Regions from separate parts of the Homo sapiens genome. Here region 1 is linked to region 2. The links come from fine-mapping of genetic effects on plasma protein levels. A gene starts in region 2. The other region holds a variant in brackets. All regions are shown on one strand. Distances are from middle to middle.

Region 1 (2,923 bases), 74 kb before region 2:
CCATTCCTGGATGGCCTCTAGGCTGACAATCTGTACCAAGTTGCCAGACATATGAGTGAGCCATCTTGAAAGTAGCCAAACCAGCTGATGTTATATAAAGCAGAAACAGCTAGCCCCAGATATCTTTCCAAATTGCATATCTCTCAGTCTTTTAAGTGTTACAATAATGGTTTGCCTAATACTCAAAGGGAACTTTGAGGGAGATTCTAATTATATACTTTATTGAATAAGTGATGAGATTTCATAATAGGTAATATTTTCTGAGTATCCGGTACATGCAGGCACTGTTTAAAACATTTTAATGTATCAACAATTTAACCTTCACATGACAACTCCCTGAGTTATATTCTATTTTAATTCCCATTTTACAGTTGAGGAAACTTAAATAATCATCTATAAATACACAGAGAGGTGTGGTAATTTTCCCAAGCTCAAAGAACTAAGAAGTATTAAGATTAGAACCCAAGCAGTATGGTTTAATCACCAAGAATCTGAGAGGCATGTGTTTTCATGCAGAAAAAAATATATAAAGAGTCACTGAGGTGACTTTGTATGTCTGGGGGTGAGGGTGTTGAAGTGCACTTGAGAGTAGTCAATAGACATGGAGATGTGCCATGCATATCCTCCTTTAAGATGCTGGTATTTACAGCCACCAGCCATTTGTTCCTTCAGGGTCCACCTCAGCTTTTTAGCTGAGGTCATGCTCTTTTCGACTTGGACCCTGGCCAATAAATCAGCAAAGCAGTGGTATAAAAGCAGAGTCACTTCTGCCAAACCCAGGGCTCGTCTAACTCCTGTTGTTGAGTTGGCAGAGATGTAGGGTCTTCATCATGCCCAATCCTGTTTCTTCCCTCTACCTTTCACAAGTGTTACTTCCCAATAAACCTTTTCCTCACTGGTTCTATCTTAGTACCTGCATTTAGGAGAACCTAACCATGGCAGAGAAAAGCACAGAAAGTCAGGCAGAGGCTAAGTCAAAAAAAGATCTTTAATCCCTATTAATGAGCTTTGATTTTTTTTTTTTTTTTTTAAGTATTTATTGATCATTCTTGGGTGTTTCTCGGAGAGGGGGATTTTGGCAGGGTCATAGGACAATAGTGGAGGGAAGGTCAGCAGATAAACATGTGAACAAAGGTCTCTGGTTTTCCTAGGCAGAGGGCCCTGCCGCCTTCCGCAGTGTTTGTGTCCCTGGGTACTTGAGATTAGGGAGTGGTGATGACTCTTAACGAGCAAGCTGCCTTCAAGCATCTGTTTAACAAAGCACATCTTGCACTGCCCTTAATCCATTTAACCCTGAATGGACACAGCACATGTTTCAGAGAGCAAGGGGTTGGGGGTAAGGCCATAGATTAACAGCATCCAAGGCAGAAGAATTTTTCTTAGTACAGAACAAAATGGAGTCTCCCACGTCTACTTCTTTCTACACAGACACAGCAACAATCTGATTTCTCTTTCCTTTCCCCACACTTCCCCCCCTTCCACTCGACAAAACCGCCATCGTCATCATGGCCCGTTCTCAATGAGCTGCTGGGTACACCTCCCAGACGGGGTGGCGGCCAGGCAGAGGGGCTCTCACTTCCCGGAC[A/G]GGGCGGCTGGCCGGGCGGGGGCTGTCCCCCACCTCCCGGAGGGGGCGGTTGCAGGGCGGAGGGGCTCCTCACTTCTCAGACGGGGCAGCCGGTCAGAGACGCTCCTCACCTCCCAGACGGGGTCGCGGCCGGGCAGGGGCATTCCTCACATCCCAGACGGGGCGGCGGGGCAGAGGCGCTCCCCACATTTCAGACGATGGGCGGCCAGGCAGAGACGCTCCTCACTTCCTAGATGGGATGGCGGCCGAGCAGAGACGCTCCTCACTTCCCAGACTGGGTGGCTGGGCAGAGGGGCTCCTCACGTCCCAGACGATGGGTGGCCAGGCAGAGACGCTCCTCACCTCCCAGACGGGGTGGCGGCCGGGCAGAGGCTGCAATCTCGGCACTTTGGGAGGCCAAGGCAGGCGGCTGGGAGGTGGAGGTTGTAGCGAGCCGAGATCACGCCACTGCACTCCAGCCTGGGCAGCATTGAGCACTGAGTGACTGAGACTCCGTCTGCAATCCTGGCACCTCGGGAGGCCGAGGCTGGCGGATCATTCCAGGTCAGGAGCTGGAGACCAGCCCGGCCAACATGGCGAAACCGCGTCTCCACCAAAAAATACGAAAACCAGTCAGGCGTGGCGGCGTGCGTCTGCAATCCCAGGCACTTGGCAGGCTGAGGCAGGAGAATCAGGCAGGGAGGTTGCAGTGAGCCGAGATGGTGGCATTACAGTCCAGCCTCCGCTGGGCATCAGAGGGAGACCGTGGAGAGAGAGGGAGAGGGAGGGGGAGGGGGAGGGGGAGGGGGAGGATTTTTTTTTTCTTGTAAGTCAGTGATCCTCAAATTATTTTGATTGGGAACATTTATTAGTAAAGTGTGTGATGTATAACAATATATGTTTATATGCATTTATTTGTAGAACATATAGGCAGAGTAGTAATTTTATATTATATGTCTTAATTATACACAAAAATATAAATTTTTAAAAGTCAAAAATATAATATTTAATAAAAATAAATTTTCACATTTTTATTGGTATCTAATGAATCTGTCTTACATATTCTCTGGAGAATATGCATCTCCTTTTGGAAACTATTACTTTTGGCAATGAAAATCTCTAGGTGTTTTACATGAGTCTAAACTACTGAGATTTGTATTTTACAAAGGTCATTCTGGTAAGACTGGAGGGTGAAGAAATTAGGGTCAAAACCAGGAGCAAGTGAAAAGTATCATAATTGGCTTTAACATGGCTCATATTATTCAAATGTCACAGAGGATTATGTGAGAAAAGTCTGACAGATTTGAACAAGGAAACTAAAGTTTTCTTTGCTAAGTTTAGGGAGCATGTCTGCTATGC
Region 2 (2,923 bases):
TAAGAGCGGCATTTCAAATAAGGGTAGAAGGTATGCCAATAATATTGGCTTCTGGTAGCATTATGATGCATCCATTAATTCTATATTGAGAGTTTTCCATCATGTGGATTCAAGCTAACATAATTGTTTTATGGCAGTAATGTCTAAACAAGGGTCCACAATTAGGCTGTATTTTTATCTTGATTTGTGAACTGTCTCTGCCAACTACTCAAATTTCAAGCTTGTTGAGACATATGTTATCCCTGGAAACCCATCATAAAAATGAAGCATTTTACTGTCCCACTAATTCTGTGTGCTCTGGTCAGTTTCCCCATCTAGATCCAAATTAACCATGTAATTGTCCTTATACTAGTGACTAGTATTTTAAATGGCCTTTTTAGGGAAACCAAAAAGAATAAATTTATTGCTTTTTGTGCAAAAATATAATCTGGTTTGGATTCTCTTTTCTAGCTTTTAAAGCAGTGAGATAGAATGCAGTCGTGGGAAAAGAACTGGATATGGAATTAGGAAGATCTGCATTTGAAATCCAGCTCTGCGACTACTTCTTACGTGTGTGATCTCATAAAGTCACTTAATTTATCTGAGCCTTGGCCTCTTTACCTGTCAGATGGGGACCCTCTGGTGAATCAAATGAGCCATTAACGATCTAATAACATAACATGTTACCTTTATAACTTAATAATTCATTTAAAAAATAATTTGTGTATGTAAGGATGCAAATATAATTAGTAGGAGATAAGAATGAAAGAAAACCTTCAGCCAAAGGCAGAAATATTTTGGTTAAAAAGAAATCAAAGTACTGAAGAACAAGAGCAAGACAAAAATGATTACAACGTCTTCATTTATAGCTCACATGTCACAGCTCAGTATTTATAGGTTTGTTAGTGACAGCCTTCCCAGTATAGCAATGTTAATTACGAAGTAGCTGTCATTGTGTTTCACTGACACAGCACTGTGCACCTGACGGAGGCTGAAAGTACTCATTATTTCCATAGCTGATCATTTAAAGGTCCAAAAATTACACCAATAAATCCGTTTGTGTCTGATTACAATCTCTCTATATCGTACATTGAAATTCCCTGGTGACTTTTTAACAAATCTTAGTGCATTTTATTTCCCAAATATGATTTGTAATAATCAGAGCTTGACTAAAACCTCAGGAAGAGGTGATGGGTGTGAAGCTGAACACAATACTAAATCTATATTCAAATTTTCCAGAGCCTATACTTCCATCGTTATTTAAATGCCATGATCAAAGCAATAGATAGACTAAATATGGAGGGAAAGGAGGGAGGGAGAAACTGAAGAAGGAAGGGAGAGGGAGGGAGAGAAAGAGATCGAAGAGAGGCTTGGGAAAATGTTCAGTGGAAAATCTGTAGAAATGATGTAAGAGAAAGCAAAGGCAGGGATTGGAGTAAGGGGTGTATAACTGAGACTATAAAAACTCAGAGAGAAAACTCACCACCAGGGCTGAGTTTTGGAGAAACTGCAGAGACAGTACTCTAAAGTTAGAATCTCCTGATCTTTCACGAGGTAAGTTATATGTAAAAATTGATAAAGATTTAATGCTTCTTTTAACTATTATTTTTACTTTCACAGACTCTTTAAATGTTTTGATTATATCTTGATTTTGTTAAAATTAGAGTGGTAATATTTCCCTCTCTAAAATGAGTAGAAAATCAAAGATATTTTTGTAATGCAAACTTAAGGTAGAACTAATTGCTTATTCAGATATTTCATATTTATAAGATTGCTTTTCTCTTCCATTTCAAAACAAACAGAAAGTGAATGCAAAATAATAATTCTATACATATATATGTTATTAGCGTTATTTTGCTTTCCTCAAAATTGTGTAATATTAGAAAAATGTTTAATATAAAAGAGTGGTCTAAACAACCTAGGTAAAAAAGAAAGGTTTTTTCCTCATTATTTCTATCAAAACTGGAGCTTAAGAAACATCCCTAAACTAATGAAATTCTATCTCTTATGTTCTTAAAACCTAATGCATCTTCTGTTTTTCTCCTTATATGTCAAATATGCAAATATGATATTAATAACATAGTTGGAGTAGACTTAGAGTATGCCTGTTCTTCAGTATTTGTAGTGCTCTTGCTATTCAATGATTGAATTGAGAGTTAATCTGAAACATACATTTGAGCTCTGTTGGAGAAGAAATTTAAAATTTTATTTCAGGTTTAGTGTGCACTCAGTGAATTCAGTTCTAACAATTCAAATGTTGTTTCTTTGAATAACAGACTCTATAGGTTTAGGAATGTGATTATTATTTGTTTATGAGTTTTCCTTCTAAAAATTTAACATTTTTGAGAATGAATTATGGTAATTTTAATGCCTATATAAGTTATAGAATTGATAGTGTTATACCAAAAACACCAGGGACATTCTGTGTTTTCTCTTACTTTGGTACTACTCTTCAGCACGCTTACAGAACTTTTCTAAGGAGCACTTTCTGTAGATAACAGTTCAGGTCTCCTTCATGTCAGTGAATTTTACTATGGCTTCATTCAAAAATTATTCAGAGTGTTTAAGGTTGACATTTGCTTTCTCCCCCTTATTTCTCAGGATTTTTAACTGATTCTTATATACTGAATAATGAGCAGTAGAGAAGCAGATATCTTCAGTTGACTGGGCACGGGAACCTCAGGGCTATAATTTTAACTTCTTTTACAAATACTCTCAATGATTTGAACATTTGATTAATAAAATTAGATTAATTGAACTTGTCTCAAAAATAAAGAACTCGAAGTAAGAAATCCTAATATATCATTCTAGCTCTGCTATAATCCACCTATACAACTGCAGGCAAGCCTTAAGCACGAATTAAGGCTTGATAATATTGTATTTTGTCCTTGTGAAAAGGACAAAAAAAAATAGAAGTGCTAGGGATACTGAGTATAAAAATATT

Which allele goes with the higher level. Positions count from the first base shown, and alleles are read on the strand shown. Strength reflects both the effect of a copy and how common the allele is.
In carriers of allele G in region 1, the plasma level of the protein whose gene starts at base 1,467 in region 2 tends to be lower than with A alone (weak association).

The links. A credible set is the group of variants that fine-mapping cannot tell apart. PIP is the posterior inclusion probability: the model's chance that the variant is causal. Protein levels are from antibody-based Olink assays in UK Biobank. Linkage for the fine-mapping came from a reference panel and not from the study's own genotypes, which makes the PIPs less certain.
Region 1: its variant is the best candidate, but not a certain one, in a credible set for the plasma level of the OSTN protein (UK Biobank, PIP 0.75).

Annotation. Positions count from the first base shown.
Region 1 is chr3:191,123,441-191,126,363 of GRCh38, forward strand. No RefSeq gene overlaps it. Among named protein-coding and RNA genes, the nearest start is that of OSTN, 74 kb to the right of the region's middle. The variant A/G (reference allele first, on the strand shown) is at 1,586.
Region 2 is chr3:191,197,775-191,200,697 of GRCh38, forward strand. OSTN (osteocrin) reads left to right here and starts at 1,467. Exons shown (of 5, transcript NM_198184.2): 1 at 1,467-1,533.